Regions from separate parts of the Homo sapiens genome. Here region 2 is linked to region 1. A link means that fine-mapping ties the variant in region 1 to the expression of a gene that starts in the linked region. Tissue or cell type: aorta. Region 1 holds a variant in brackets; the other region holds the start of a gene. All regions are shown on one strand. Distances are from middle to middle.

What was found. PIP is the estimated chance that this variant, and not a neighbour inherited with it, causes the effect.
Region 2: it holds the start of MATN3, and the variant in region 1 is fine-mapped to the expression of MATN3 in aorta (GTEx, PIP above 0.99).

The regions. Positions count from the first base shown.
Region 1 is chr2:19,926,440-19,934,547 of GRCh38, forward strand. WDR35 (WD repeat domain 35) reads right to left here. Exons shown (of 27, transcript NM_020779.4): 22 at 6,962-7,072; 23 at 5,844-6,008; 24 at 4,830-4,970; 25 at 3,957-4,113. Among named protein-coding and RNA genes, the nearest start is that of TTC32, 29 kb to the left of the region's middle. RefSeq lists an enhancer at 7,039-7,088. The variant A/C (reference allele first, on the strand shown) is at 4,587.
Region 2 is chr2:20,009,053-20,017,160 of GRCh38, forward strand. MATN3 (matrilin 3) reads right to left here and starts at 3,616. Exons shown (of 8, transcript NM_002381.5): 1 at 3,357-3,616. The coding sequence starts at 3,579. RefSeq lists an enhancer at 2,720-3,332.

The DNA of each region.
Region 1 (8,108 bases):
GGTAATGACTGCTTTTGATTTGCCTATTAATGTGATATCTGATTCTTCATACGTGGTTCATTCTACACAGTTAATTGAAAATGCTCAGTTATGATTTCATACAGATGAACAACTGATGACAAAAACAAAAAAGAGGGAGAGACAGGGATTATGGGACAGCCCATACACAATTGAATCTAGCATTATTAACTTTAAATTTTTTGAGCCTGCCCAAATGCCAGATGTTATCAGCAGCTGAACAGCATCTACAGAAACCAGCTGCAAAGACAGAAGCAGAACAACTAGTTTGGTGGAGAGATCTGATAACAAAAAGTTGGGAAATAGGTAAAATAATAACTTGGGGTAGAGGTTATGCTTGTGTTTCTCCAGGCCAAAATCAACAGCCGATTTGGATACCATCAAGACACCTGAAACCTTATCATGAGCCAGATGCCAAGGAAGAGATTCCGGGAGGATCTCGAGGACCCCCCCCACCCTGTTGCAGCCATTTCGAGACTGACACTGAGGAGGACCCCAGCTGTCGCAAGCAACACCCGTTGAACACAGTCAACTAACTGGGGACAGATCAAGAAGCTGTCACAGATGGCGGAAGAAAACCTGAGGAAAGTGGGACAACCAGTCACAATGAGTAATTTAATGGTAGCTATGATAGCTGTTATCACCACTGCTATGAGTATTCCTTCAGTAAGGGCTGACACAGGGAACAATTACACTTATTGGGCATATTTATCAATCTTGGCTGGCAATAATGCCTAGATGTAATCACTCTATGATGCTGTTACACAGCTTTCTGATCTCAGTATTTACCATAATAAATCTGCTCCTATAATTGAGGCATACCGCCCTCAAAAACCTATTTGTAAACAAAATTGAACCTGGCCAGAAAAAAATGAACGTACTTGTTTAGGAAGATTGCATTGCAGAACAGGCAGAGGTGCTGCACAATGATTCCTATGGAATCATTATTAATTGGTCCCCTAAGGGGATGTTTAGCTTGAATTGCACTTCTCAGTCTGTGTGCCATGCCATACTTATGTTCAGATGGTCTCAACAAAATGTTCAGGTGGTAGATATAATAAGAAGTACGGCAAGAGTTCCTATTATCTAGAACCATGGTGGTATAGTGGCACCTCAACCTCAAATGATATGGCCCGCTCTAGGAGCTAAACATTAAGGATTTGTGGAAACTATTAATAGCTCTTAACAAGATCAAAATTTGGGAAAGAATAAAAAAGCGTCTAGAAGGACACTCTACAAACTTGTTTTTGGATATAGCAAAATTAAAAGAACAAATATTCAAAGCATCCCAGGGACACCTGACCTTAATGCCAAGAACTGGAGTGCTTAAAGGAGCTGCAGACAGATTAGCAGCTAGTAATCCATTAAAATGGATAAAAACACTTGGAAGCCCTGTAATTTCAATGATGATTGTGCTTTTAATCTGTGTTGTTTGTCTTTCTATAGTCTGCAGATGTGGATCCTGACTCCTGCAAGAAGTAGCTCACCATGACAAAGCTGTCCTTGCCTTTATAGATTTGCAAATCAAAGAAGGGGGACATGTTGGGAACAGGCACCCCTCAAAATCTGGCCATAAACTGGCCCCAAAACTGGCCATAAACAAAATCTCAGCAGCACTGTGACAGGTTCATGATGGCCATAACACCCACTCTGGAAGGTTGTGGTTTACTGGAATGAGGGCAAGGAACACCTGGCCCGCCCAGGGCAGAAAACTGCTTAAAGGAGTTCTTAAACCACAACCAGTAGCATGAGCAATCTGTGCCTTAAGGACATGCTCCTGCTGCAGATAACTAGCCAGACCCATCCCTTTATTTCAGCCCATCCCTTCGTTTCCCATAAGGGATACTTTTAGTTAATCGAATATCTATAGAAACAAGGCTAATGACTGGCTTGCTGTTAATAAATACGTGGGTAAATCTCTGTTCGGGGCTCTCAGCTCTGAAGGTTGTGAGACCCCTGATTTCCCACTTCACACCTCTATATTTCTGTGTGTGTGTCTTTAATTCCTCTAGCGCCGCTTGGTTAGGGTCTCCCTGACTGAGCTGGTCTCGGCACATTAAGGTAGAATTTCAAATCTGTTAAGAAAGAATAAACCTAATATATGGTTTCAGGATAACTTAGATGTTATAATAAACATAATATTTAACAAACTTGAAGGAATTCCTAAGCATGATTCCTAAGAGAAAAATATGAAGTAAAAGACTGACAGACATGACTATATAAAAAAAACTATTAATATCATCATCACAGCTACCACTTATTGAGGGCTCACAATGTCCAGGCAGCATAATAAGTGAGTTTTCTTTTCATGAACTTCTCAATCATTACAATAACTCTATGAGGAAGATACTATTTTTTTTTTTTTTTGAGACGGAGTCTCGCTCTGTCACCCAGGCTGGAGTGCAGCGGTGCGATCTCGGCTCACTGCAAGCTCCGCCTCCCAGGTTCACACCATTCTCCTGCTTCAGCCTCCCAAGTAGCTGGGACTACAGGCACCTGCCACTACACCCAGCTGATTTTTTTGTATTTTTAGTAAAGACAGGGTTTCACCGTGTTAGCCGGGATGCTCTCGATCTCCTGACCTTGTGATCCACCCGCCTCAGCCTCCCAAAGTGCTGGGATTACAGGCATGAGCCACTGCACCCGGCTGAGGAAGATACTATTATCCTTTCTTTACACAAAGAGAAACTGAAGCTTAGAAAGGATCAAGTAACTATAACTTATAAATGCTAGGGAAAATCAATATATATGAAAGACGATTATTACATATGGTCTCTAAAGAGCTCTTATAAAAATAATTAAAAATAAAAATCATCACTATAGAATTCCAGAAATATTCAAATAAAAGAATTTCTCTAAAAGTTTTCTTTTAATATCATGCCATTGGAATACAGATTCATGATGTATTAGGATTAGAGTGTGATGTGCATATGGTGATGATGTGAGCAGCAAATGGATGATGTCACCAATATGACAGAGGAAGGGTGGGGTGTCATGACAGTGCTTGCCATGGCCAAGCTGAAAGACCAGTAATGATTTAGTCATTCATATGCTTTGGCTTACAACATAATTATCATAATTACACTCTCTGGAGTTCATATATCTAAATTCTAGAATATTGTTATTGTTAAGAAGAAATTGAGATCCTGATATTACATGTAAATAATCTTCTATCAATTACAGTATACAAATACCATGGAATATTAGGTAGAATGTTTATATAGATCTCTGTTTAAGAATGAGGAAAGAACTATAATATACTGCTGAGGGAAAAAACCATGCTCCTGCATGTAGAAACATCTAAAAGGAAGTTTACCCAAACCTTAGCAATGATTACCTCTGAGTTATAGGATTATTTTACAAATTGTTAGATTATTTTACTTTTTCTTCATATTTTTCTGTTTTGGTTGAAATTATTAGCTAAGTATCACTTTTATAAAACACAAGATAAATGCTATAGCAATGTATATGTAAAATATGGAAATATTTTAAAACGTGGTTTTCAAAAAGTACATAAAAGTATGCCATGTTATACTCCCGATATTGTAAAGAATAAAATTATCTGAATGTATGTATTAAATATATTTTATGTATTTAAATATATGTATTAAATATATTTAATAGATATATGTATATATATTTTTCTCCAAAAAATATGAACTTGGCTATGAAGTATTTAACTTTGAATGGCTAGCCATATGAATGCTATACACATTCTTTTTGCTTATCTCAAATTTCTGACATTTCTGTGAACTATGTGTTTTCTCTGTATTAAAAAAAACTTCAAAAATGGGAATGCATAAGACTCAAACATAGGAAAATAAATCCATAGGAAAAAATGTTATTGAAGGCCACATAAAGGCAAATTGAAGAAGCTAGCCCTTCATACTCAATTTATAATTTTCAGACATACTATACACATTAGGTGACATGCCCACCTGTCTTCAGTGCAGTGTCCACACATCCCTCATAGAGCTGCCTCTGTGCAAGTATAAAGAAGTGGTAAGCCTCTGCCCCTCTCCATGCATTATCTGTGAAACGATCTGTTGTAGACAGAACTTCTTCTTCCAGCAAACCAGCCAAGGCAGAAGTGGCCTACGAGTAAAGTCAGCCCACACTTTCCGTCAGCACAAACGCACACACAGTGTCAACTCCCAAATAACAACAGTCATTAAAGTATCTAAATGAGCAGATTTTATCATTACAAAACTATGATTACAGACTTTTTTTTTTAAGAGATGAGGTATTACTCTGTCACCCAAGCTGGAATGCAGCTGCGTGGTCATAGCTCACTGCAGTCTCAAACTCATGGACTCAAGTGATCCTCCCACCTAAGCCTCCCTAGTCACTGAGATCACTGGTGTGAGCACTGCACCCAAAACAGATTTAATTTTTTATTATAATTCATAGTTTGTTAAACTGGTATGAATAAATTTTAAAATATAACTAATTAGATTCTAAGTTAATCAGACATTCATTTACGCATTACAACAATATATCTAGGAAAGTTTTAAAACTCACTGATTAGAAAGGAAGATTTCCCAGGTAAGTAAAATTTTTTAACAAAT[A/C]AGACATTAAAGCAAAGACTACAGATTAGTATTACAGAAAAACAATTTCAATATTTCTAGGTAGAAATTTCTGAATTTGAATACTAATTCTAAATCAGTCATTCTTTTTCTTCATATCATTTAAGGAAACAAATGCAGACATGCAAATTAAATGACCTATCCATAAAAGAAGTTTAATAGTTTCTTTTTTTTTTTTTCTTAAACACTTCCAATGATGTAATGTTATTTAACGTGCTACTTTACCTCTGAACTTTTTCCTTTAACTTTTCCTCGCTGGGCATTCTTCATCTGTTCATGGTATTGCTCTATAAGTAAGGCTGACAGTACATAGAGCTTCTTGACACGTAAAGGTTTACTTCCTTTCTTTGCCTCTTCATCTGCAATCTTAAACATTTTTCAAAATTGAGGGAAGTTACTTCTTATCTATATTTGTACAAATACAATCATTTCCAAAACTAACAAATTTGATTCCCTAAAAAAGGAGGAAAATCAGTAAGATGGAATATAAATATCACCTATTTAAGATAAATATTTTAAAACCTATCTTCTTTTCATTAGTACCTATTCGTATTTAGTTCTTTCCTTAGTATTTAGCCCTAGGAGTTGGAATTCAGATCACTCTTAGAAAATGAGAGGTGCTGTTAGATAACTAAATCAGAATAAAGAAAGTATTGATGAAATGCTGGTATTTTCCATAATACAGAGATTTTTAAAATAATGTTCCAAGTACACAAAGATATGATAGTGTTAACATGGTGCATCCTTCAGAAGCTGAAACTTATTTAAATGATTTTAAGAGATATTTTTCCTTTTTCATTAAATCAAATGGGAATAGAATAGAAGGTAAAATGTGTATACATTAATACTGTACTAATTATCTTCCCTCCAAATAAATATTATGTAAAGCGTAATATTTAAAACTTGTACATTTAAAAGAACTTAAAACTCTATTATCAACAAAATTTAATTCCCTGTTGTAGAAATTTGTACTTTGCAGTCTCAGTAATTTCTTTAACTCTTTGTTAACTCCAGTATTCAACATACAATTGTTTAGGTATTAGTAAGTTGCTAATATTAATAAACATCTTTGTTGGTAAAAGGCAATAATACTAAAATAATGTATACAGAAGCAATAAAACCAGAGTGGTTTTGCTGTAATAAATATTTGTTTCCAAAGAAAATGGAGAATATGCTCTTTCATATATTAAAATATTGTGACTGGAACAAATCAACTATTCACCAAGATTTTTACATTACCTTAAACATCAGTTTAGCTGCATCAAAAAAGTAATTGGCTTTCCGATAGAGTTCTATGGCATCAAGAGTTTTATTCTTTTCCAGTAAATGAGATGCATACCTAGCTAACAGAGATCCAATTTCTTTCATACTATGATTTTTAGCCAATTCAACAGCTTTGTTCCACTAGGAGAAAAATTACACCATTCAGTCACCCAAGTATTTACAGTCACATATATCATAAAATTCACACAAGAAAGCTTTAAGTTTATAGTAAAAACACTATTTCAAAATTAAAAACTGGTATGTTTTAAAAATAGCATTTAAAATCACAGCAACATAAGTCCTATAAGCATAAGTCAAAATGATTAAATGATCTCTAAGACTCTGATTTGCTTAAGAAATACATGTGAAAATGAAAGTTTCAAAGTTTATAATCATATTAATCTTGTAATTCTAATCTTACAAAACTTCAAGCAAGAAAGATACACTTGTTTATATGTTATAGTAAAACAAAATATGCAATTTCAGTTGTGAAAATGTCCTATCAGATTTGACATTTAAAAATTATTTTTATAAAGCAAAAGGGGTTTTAAAAAATAAGAAAAATATTAAAAGAATACATTAATAGTCAATAGTTTCTATAATAACGCTGTACTTTTAGTTTAATTTCAGCTCTTAAAAATATCAAATGTATGTTTTCTATAAAGGAAAAGGAAAACAGATTTGCCAAAATAAATATTGATAAAGTAACTCAATTCCTTCCTCAGGCAATGACCAACCATTAACTGGTCCTTCTTTGGAAACAAAACCCAACCCTAACAAAATGCAGAAAATTATGAAATTACTTCCAGACAAAAACTTGCCAGACTAAAAGCACAAGGTTTGTTCATGCTCCCATACTGAGCTGGTTATAAGTGGGTCACCCCTCATGGTAGCACTTTAAGAGGTAAGTGCAACTTTCTTCATCCTCAATTAAGAGAATACCCGCCTGGCTCCTTTCATAAAATTCACGTCAGGCTCTCCAACCCTTACATTGGCAATAATCTTTAAAAGATCACTAGGGTGACTTTAACCTTGCTTTGACTTAAAAATTCCTAAGACAATAAGCTGCACAGACAGAAAGTTTCAGTTCCTACTTGGTTGAGATGTACGCAGGTATCTACTGCTGCCTTTGGTTGACTACATTTCAAAAATGCAGTCACTGCTTGTTCACACATTCCAACTCTGACAAACATTTGTGCTATTTCCTGTACAAACAAAACAATACTATCAGATTTCACAGACCAAGGAAATTACTTATATTTTAATTTAACAAAACTCCGTAGGGACGTATGAGTATTAAATTTACTGGTAGTTACAGATTTTTCTTGTAAACAGACGCAAGGGCAGAGGGTACAAATGAGAATGGATGCTAAGGCATCACTTCTATAAATCCAGAGCTTCACTGGCTCAGGCTGTGGATCTGATTTTTAACGAGGCCCTGAAGACACTGCACTCCTTTCTTATCTCAGTTCAGTAGCTAGTATACAGAAATGTCAAGCTCCAAAACAAATCCCCCACCAGTGGGTGAAAAAAGCCTTTATATCAATTGGTGGTATACTCAGTGCTAATTATTAACTAGAGACTTAAGGGAAATCTCACATTCACAGAGCCCTCAAATACCTCTATAAAGAAATGTCCTAGAGAAGTCTGCCATTAATCAGTTCAGGAAGCTAGACCCAAAACAGAGCTCTCTTGGAAAGTGGTGGCAGCGAGGAAGAACCACCACCACCACCACCACCACCACCACCACCACCACCACCACCACCACAAAAAAAAATCCTACTTGTTCAGCTGCACTGGCCATTTTCAGAACATCATTTTTTTTCTTTCAGAATATCTAATTAGCCAGAGGTTTTCCCTCCCCAACCCTTCTACAATATGTTTGGAAGTATGAAAGTATATTTTATATCCAACTTTTAAAACAATGCTTATATTTTTCTGATTATAAGGGAATACATTCTATCTGTAAAAAAAATTACAAAACATGAAAAAGTGAAATTACTCATAATCTTATCATTCATAAGAAACCTCTCTCAATACTCTGGTGCAATTTCTTAACATCTTTGTCCTTTGAATATATATGTATATGTTTGTGTTGTACACAATCACACAATACACAATTTTGTATCCTGTATTTCCTACTTAAATATTATGTACACCTTCCCATATTATTAAAAATTCTTCTATAACTCTATTTAAAATTTATAATACTAAAATTTTTACTATTTTAGTTATTTAATT
Region 2 (8,108 bases), 83 kb after region 1:
CATCTCTATAAAAAGTTTAAAAATTAGCCAGGCATGGTGGCAGGCACCTGTAGTCCCAGCTGCTTAGGGGGCTGAGGCAGGAGGATCGCTTAAAGCTAGAGAGTCAAGGCTGCAGTGAGCCACAATCACACCACTGCACTCCAGCCTGGATGATAGAATGAGACCCAGTCTCTAAAAGCCAAAAAAAAAAAAAAGGAATCAAAATTCTTTCTTTCTTTAAAAAAAAAAAAAACAACTCCAGCAGCCATAAAAAAGAATGAGTCCATGTCCTTTGCAGGGACATGGATGAAGCTGGAAGCCGTCATTCTCAGCAAACTGACACAGGAACAGAAAACCAGACACCACATGTTCTCACTCATAAGTGGGAGTTGAACAATGAGAACTCATGGACATAGGGAGGGGAACATCACACACCAGCGCCTGTCAGGGGGTGGGGGGCAAGAGGAGGGAGAGCATTAGGACAAATACCTAATCTATGTGGGGCTTAAAACCTAGATGATGGGTTGATGGGTGCAGCAAACCACCAGCGCACATGTATCCCTATGTAACAAACCTGCACATTCTGCACATGTATCCCAGAACTTAAAGTAAAATAATAATAATTTTTTAAAAAGATCTGAATAGGAAACATTTGTCATCTATTGTCTCTAAGGGTAGCCACTATAAGACTTCAAAAGAACATTGGTCTTTACAGTCTTTTATCTTAACCTGAACATTTCCTTTCTATGGATCCCAGGTCTTTAGGCAAATGCAACCAATTATCAACCAGAAAATATTTAAACTTACCTATAGCCTGGAAGCCCCTCACCACCACCGGCTTTGAGTTGTCCCACCTTTTAGGACCAAACCAATGTATTTCTTAAATGTATTTGATTGATGTCTCATACCTCCTTAAATTGTATAAAAACAAGCTGCACCCTGACCATCTTGAGCACATGTACTCAGGACCTCTTGAGGGCTGTGTCACAGACCATGGTCACTCATGTTTGTCTCAGAATAAATCTCTTCAAATACTAAAAAAAAAAAAAAAAAAAAAAACCTCCAGAATTTTACTTCATTCCTGGAAAGTCCCATAGATCTAGAGCTAGGAAGAAGAATTATGTTGAAAATCTTTCCTGGAGATGGGTCAAAGTATTTTTGTATAATTAGAAAAAGAAAAGGTGGGGGTAACATGAAGATATGAACTCTGTAATTGACAGTGCTTTCACCAGCACCCAAATGGTGTCCTTATAAATATCATGGCTATGTTCTTATAACTAAACGTGCATGATTCTTTCCTTCTCCACTTGGTTATTCACACCGAATCCTCTATTCGGGGTGTGGTATGCAGAATAATGTCCCCCGCCAAAGACGTCCACGTCCTAATTCCAGAGACATGTTACTTTTACGTGGCAAAGAGCAGAGACTTTGCAGGTGTGATTAAGTCAAAGAGCTCTACACAAGAGGTTATCCTGGATTATTCAGTGAGTCAATGTAATTATAAAGTAGAAGAGGGAGGCAGATGAAAGAAATGTGAGTAACTCAATGGGAGAAGGCCTCAACCTGCTTTAGCTGGCTCTGAAAATGGAAGAAAAAGGCCATAAGCCAAGGAACTCAGCAGCCTTCATGCGGTGGAAAGGGAAGGGAAATGCAGTCTCCCCTAGAGCCTCCCAAAAGGAACACAGCCCTGCCGACACCTTCATCTTAGCCCAGTGAGACCAGGGTCAGACTTCTGACCCACAGAACTCTCAGGTAATAAATGTGTGTTGTCTTAAGGCACTAAATTCACAGTAATTTGTTACAGTGGCCATAGAAAACTAATACCTGAGGCTTGACCATGGTGGCAGAAAATTCTGTGAACATCTGGTTCCTTCCTGACTGGTACTCCGCATCAATCATTAGTTGTTTTTGAATCTCACTCCCATTTACTAAATAGCAGCAATTTGATTCCCAAGAACAAAGAAAGAATCTGAATCTCCTAAAATGTTCCCATACTCATAATACCACTGAGTCCTTACAGTCCTGCTAGAAATAAAAATCCATAGCGAAGCTTAGCAATTTCTGGTTGCTAAAAGGAGATAATTTGGAACAGGGTGGAATCTCGCATTTATTAATGGGTTATCATTCATGATCAGGTTCGGACTCTAGGTAATGAAAGACCAGTAAAGCTTAGGGGGACATGGCCACCTGGTGCTGAATCTCTCCTTCCTCTTCCAGTCCCATCCCAGAGGGAGGCAGGTCAGGACTAGAGTAAGATTAACTTCCAGAAGAAAGGCTTTCCCTCAATTCCCGGCCTGGAGCAACCAGCCACCAGCTGAATCTAGCCCTGTGGACCCCGGTACCTCCTGCCTTAGCAGCAATGCTTTTGCCATTTCAAATCTGCCACTTCAAATACGGGGACTGAGTATTTGAGTCAGGAAAGAGTCCCTTGAGCTCCTTCTCAGCTTATCCAGAAAGATGCAGAAGGGGATAGACAATTGAAATCAGCCTGAGGCATGCAGCGTGGCTGGCCAAATGAGACTGCATACCCAGAAATGGCCTGGCACAGACTCTTTTTAGCAAGACTGAAGCTGCGCTTTTTGGAAATGAAGATACAATCTTATGTAAACCATATTAAGAGGTTGGTAGGCTGGGGCAGTGGAAAGAGACCTTGCTTGGGATTTCGGAGCCCTGAATTTTATTGTGGCCTCTGATACTGATTCACAGAGTCCCTTCAACTTGATATGCCTCAGTTTCCCTTCATGTGCTGTCAGGGGCTGTGTCAGACGACCTGCCCGCTTCGCTGCACTATGAGCTTTGCTCTGCTTCAGGAATCAATTGCTGACCAAAAAGAGAAATAGAATTGTTCGCCAAAGACCCAGAGTGTCTTGATCCTGGGGTATCCTACGGCTCCTCGGATCTCCTCCTGGTCTCACACCCGCATCCCTTACCTTCCAGTCTGAGGCAGCCTGAGGACTGTGGGAGGGGAGGAAAGATCACGCCCTGATATTGGATGGAGATGGAGAGATTCCAAGAGAACTAACAGCAGAGTCTCAGGAAGGGTTTGCTCACTGAATGGAGAGGTCAGGACTGGGACGGAGCTTAGCAGCAGCCGCTGGGCAGCAGCCCCTGCGCTCCCCAGCTGCCCTGTGCTCCTGGCCGAATCACAGGGGAGTGAGAGCTTCAGGAGACCCACATCTCTAGCCTGGACACATGAGTGATATTGGGCATCTCCCTCCCCTTCTCTGGACCTCAGTTTCCCCCACAGGATTCATCCGGGAGGGGCCTCTTTCCCCCGCACCACGGTCGGCCTGAGGCCGGGATGAAGCGCGCTTGGTGGATGCCCTGGGCTTCTCCTCGTTCGATGCTCACGCGTCCCTCCCGCCGCCCGCCTGTACCTGCACCGCGGGCGCGGCCAGGCTCGCTGGTCCCGGAAGCGGGCGCGCCGTCGGGAGCCGCAGGAGAGGGGCGGCGTCCAGGGCTGCCCCCGGGACCTCGGGTCTCCAGCCTCCGGAAGCCCGGGCGGGCCACGGGGTCGGGGGCGGCGGAGGGCAGCAGCAGCAGCGGCCAGAGCAGCAGGAGGAGTCCCGGGAGGCGGCGCGCGGGGGCCGGGCGCGGCATGGTGGGCTCCGTGGGCCTGGTGGTGTCCGTCGGGGGCCAGGAGCCCACGCGAGGCTCGGATTTAAAGGTCCCGCGGCCTCGGGCCCCGCCCCGCCCCGGGGCCTCGAGCGCCAGGCCGGCCCGGCGAACCCCGCCCAAGGCCAACAAGGAGCCTTGTCCGCGCATTCCAGCGGCAGAAACGGAATGTCTGGGCGAGGCGGCCAGCGGCGCGGTGGTCACCTCCCGCCCCTGCCCTAAGCCCCGAGCCGGCTGCAACTGGGTGGGCTCGGCTGCTGTCGCAACCTCCGTCCTCCCAGTAACACCGGGGCAGGGGGGGCAGCCATCCGCGGCTGCAGCCTGCCCGGCCCTCCACTCTCCCTCCCACCCCAGCGGGGCCTGCGCCCCAGGTACGGGATGGGGACCCCTGGGCTCTGCTTTCCCTTCTGCCACTGGTTTGCCCGACTGGGGCTGAAGATGAAACCCTGCTCCTAGCTCTACATTCCTTTCCTCAGCCAAGTAACCCAAGTTTTGCTGTGGGCTCTTGTTTAAAAAAAAAAAAAGAAAGAAAAGGCCTCACAGATTCTAGGGGCATGAATAGAAACGCTTTCATCCGAGCTTCAAATATCCACAAACATTTGAACTTATATTACCGGGAATAGAAAGTCAAACATACATTCCCCAGAGAGCCCCGTTAGCTGGAAGGACAGCCTGTACCAACACAGGCTTCAAAGGCTCTCCCGAGGCCCCATTTCCTCTCCGGAAGAGTTAGCATGGTACAGGGCTGGAGGCTGCCAGGGGACCCCCATGGAACTCACTGTCTGTGAGAAGGAGATTTGCATAAATGTGGTGTCTGTCTACGGGAATGTGGTGGATTTAGGAAAGAGATACTGACTGCCTGCGGAGACCAGGAAGACTTCTAAAACCAGGTGACATTTGAGCTGCGTCTTAAAACAATGGGCGCGAGTTCCAACAGAGCCTATCTGGTCGTCCTATTTCACTATTTTCCCTCTACAAGTGATCCTCCTCACACGATCCTAAACCTCACTTCTCATATTTGTACCCCATGCTGGTAGCAGCATTATACACAATAGCCAAGAGGCGGAAACAACCCAAGTGTCTCTCTTTGTGTGAATGGAAAAGCAAAATGCAGTATCTACGTACAATGGAATACTGTTCAGCCTTAAAAGGGAGGAAATTTTGGCAGATGCTACAAAATGGATGAACCTTGAGAGTATTATGTTAAGTGAAATAAGCTAGTCACAAAAAGACAAATACTGTATGATTCCATTTACATGGGGAATCTAGAGTAGTCAAATTCATAGAGACAGAAAGAATGGTGGTTAACAGGAGCTGAGGGGAAGTGGGGATGGGGAGTTGTATAATGTATCAATGACATTGGGCAGTGATAGTCACACTGAGGGAAAAGGTCACTCAACTCCCACTGAGAACTCACCAATTTAGAAGGACCTTAGAAGAAACGAGAAGTTTGTAATAATGGGAAGAGGACACTAAGAAGTTTGAAAGAAACTATGCCAAGAAGAGGAGGGATTGATAAATACAGTATTTGCAAGCTCTGGTGGACATTTGTCTTTCGTCTTGCTTTTAGAATGATCCCCAAAGCCTTTGAACCCTACATTAGTCAGGGTTCTTGAGAGAAACAAAACCAATAAATTTTATATACACATACATATAGAGAGAGGGTGGGGGGAGTAATTGAGATTATGAGGGATTGGTTCATGCGATTATGAAGGCTGAGAAGTCCCACAGTCTGCTGTCTGCAAGCTGGGGGCCCAGGAAAGCCAGTGGTGTAATCCAGTCCAAGCCTGAAGGCCCAAGAGCAGGAGAGCCAATGACATAAGGCCCAATCTGAGTCCAGAGACCCAAGAACCAGGAATGCTGATGTCCAAGGACAGGAGAAGCTGGTTGGCCCAGCTCCAGCAGAGAACACATTTGCCTTCCACTGTCTTTTTGCTCCATTCAAGCCCTCAACAGATTGGATGATGCCCACTCCACTCACATAGATGAAGGTGATCTTCTTTGCTCAGTCTACCGATTCAAATGCTAATCTCTTCCAGAAACATCCTCACAGACACACCCAGAAATAATATTTAATAGCTATCTGGGCATCCATTAGCCCAGTCAAGATGACACATTAAAATTCACCATCACAAATACCTTCCTAAATTTAGGGATTTCCAACTTCATGAGTCAGCACCTCCCCAAGTTGACTCCAAGAACTTGCTTCCCCAGCATCTCTTGCAGCTAGGATGTACATAAGTGGCCCAGTCTTCATCGATCATATGTGGTGTCTATGCCAAGCAGCAGTGACTCTAGGTCTCCCATATAGCAAACCTGCAGTATAATTTTGGGAATGGTTGATGACTGTGTGGCTTCCAAGCTTGATTCTTGAACCTTTCCAGAAATTATTTGAACCACTTAATATCCAGGGCTACATATGGATGGTGTAGGTGTACATTGCACAAGTTCACAGGGGCACTATTCACATTCGTAGTCAACACATATTGATTATAACATTTGGAATTCCACTTCAACTGGGGAGTGATGTTTCTTGAGGAATGGTTGGCTTTTCCATTTGTACTTTGAGCTAGTAGTGGGACAAATAATACCCTTAATATATACTTTTTCTGTTTCTTTATTATTATTATTATAAACAGGGTCTCATTCTGTCACCCAGGCTGGAGTGCAATGGTGTCATCAGAGCTCACTGCAACCTCAACTTTCTGGGCTCAAGCAATCCTCCAGGTTCAAGCAATCCTCCTGCCTCAGCCTCCCGAGTTGCTGGGACCACAGGTGTGCACCACCACGCCCAACTAATTTTTTTTTATTCTTTATAGAGACAGGGTCTAATTATGTTGCCCAGGCTGATCTTGAACTCCTGGGCTCAAGTGATCCTCCCACCTCAGCTTGCCAAAGTGCTAGGATTATACATGTGAGCCACCATGCTTAGCCTCTTTTTCAGCTCATTCTAGCAGGAATGGGTTCTGTTTGCACCAACAATGTGGATATATTAATCTTGTGATTTTTTTTTTCTATTGCATACCACTGGGGGGCACTGTTTTAAAGAGCTCAAAATAAAAATCTCAGCTCCCTGGTGAATGTCCCTACACATTCGTTGTCAGTATCTCAGACAATTTCAGATGCTGGTGTATGAAAGTCATGCCATCTTGAATGAAATAGAAATTGTCTGATAAGTTTGTATCTCCAGAGTTCACACTCCAGGGCGGTTGTCTTACATCTGATGTCCAAAGATTGTCAAATAAAACAAAGGTAGCTCTTCTGACAGAGGAATTCAGGTGGCTGTAGGGCCTTCTTGCATGTCACCAACTCAACTGGCTGCTGGACCAGGTGGTAACTTTGCTTTCAGGTGTTTACTTGGGAATATTGCAAAAGCTATATTTCTCTACCACTGCATATTATCTTATACTACTTTGTCAAGATAAAGACTAGAATAACTTTTTGATAACCTAAAGACTTAGGTCATAAAAAAGCCAAACAGAGGTTTTTTGAACTATTCAAAAATCTAAGAAATACAACAAAGATTTATATATACACTTTACATTGTTTTTAGAATTTTATTATTTTTAAAGTAGGTAATACATGCACTTGGTCTAAACTTTGAAAAGAAAAAAGAAACCGACCAAATGTTAGGATTACTTTCAACTTTGCATTACTTCTTACAAGCAATAAATTCAACATCTTGGGAGAATTATTTTTCTCACAACTAGGATTTCAGCAGTAGAATAAGACTTGCAAGCTACTTAAGGAACCACTTGTCTCCTGCTTTGCTGCCCTTAATGTGTGGATTTTGTTCCCAAGGCTGCTGGAACTCCAAGTATCATGTTGGCATTCCAGGATGAAGGAAGAGGGAAGACCAAAGGCCAAAGAGCAAAGGACCAAAAGATATTTGCTGCTGACATCTCATGGCCACACCTGGCCACAAGGGGGTCTTGAAAGGTAAGTTCTTAGCTTTTTTGATCCACAGTGAAGAAGGCAAAGGAAAACATGCATTGGAATGGGAGTTGACAGCTAACCTGTGGCATATACTACAGGTATATGGTGAAAAGGAACTATCCCAACCACCCTTGCCAATAACACCACTGTTGCCAATGTCTTGAATGTGCATAGACTTGTAGGTGTAAACATTGAAAAATACGTGTGCAGACATCCACTGTTCTATTGAAAGAAGACATATGTTTCCAACTTTAGACCAAAAAATCTACCCCCAAACAAGTTGAAAAGTCCTTTGATTCCATGGATGCATTGGAGAAAATGTTGTCAAAAGATGTCCCAAGACTTCTTAAATCTGATAAATGACAGACCATGTACTTGGAGAAAAAAATTTGTTTTCTTTTGTGTTCAAAACTGTCTCAATCCCAAGGTGGAAGTCTTTTCCAGAAAGTATAGAACTCTTTACCTATGTTTTTTGCAATTTACCCACCTGAAAAAAACAAGTAATTATGAAAAATGAATATGTTCAATAGCCTACAAGTTGTATTGCCATCTCTGTTTTTTAATTGCCACAGGGATTA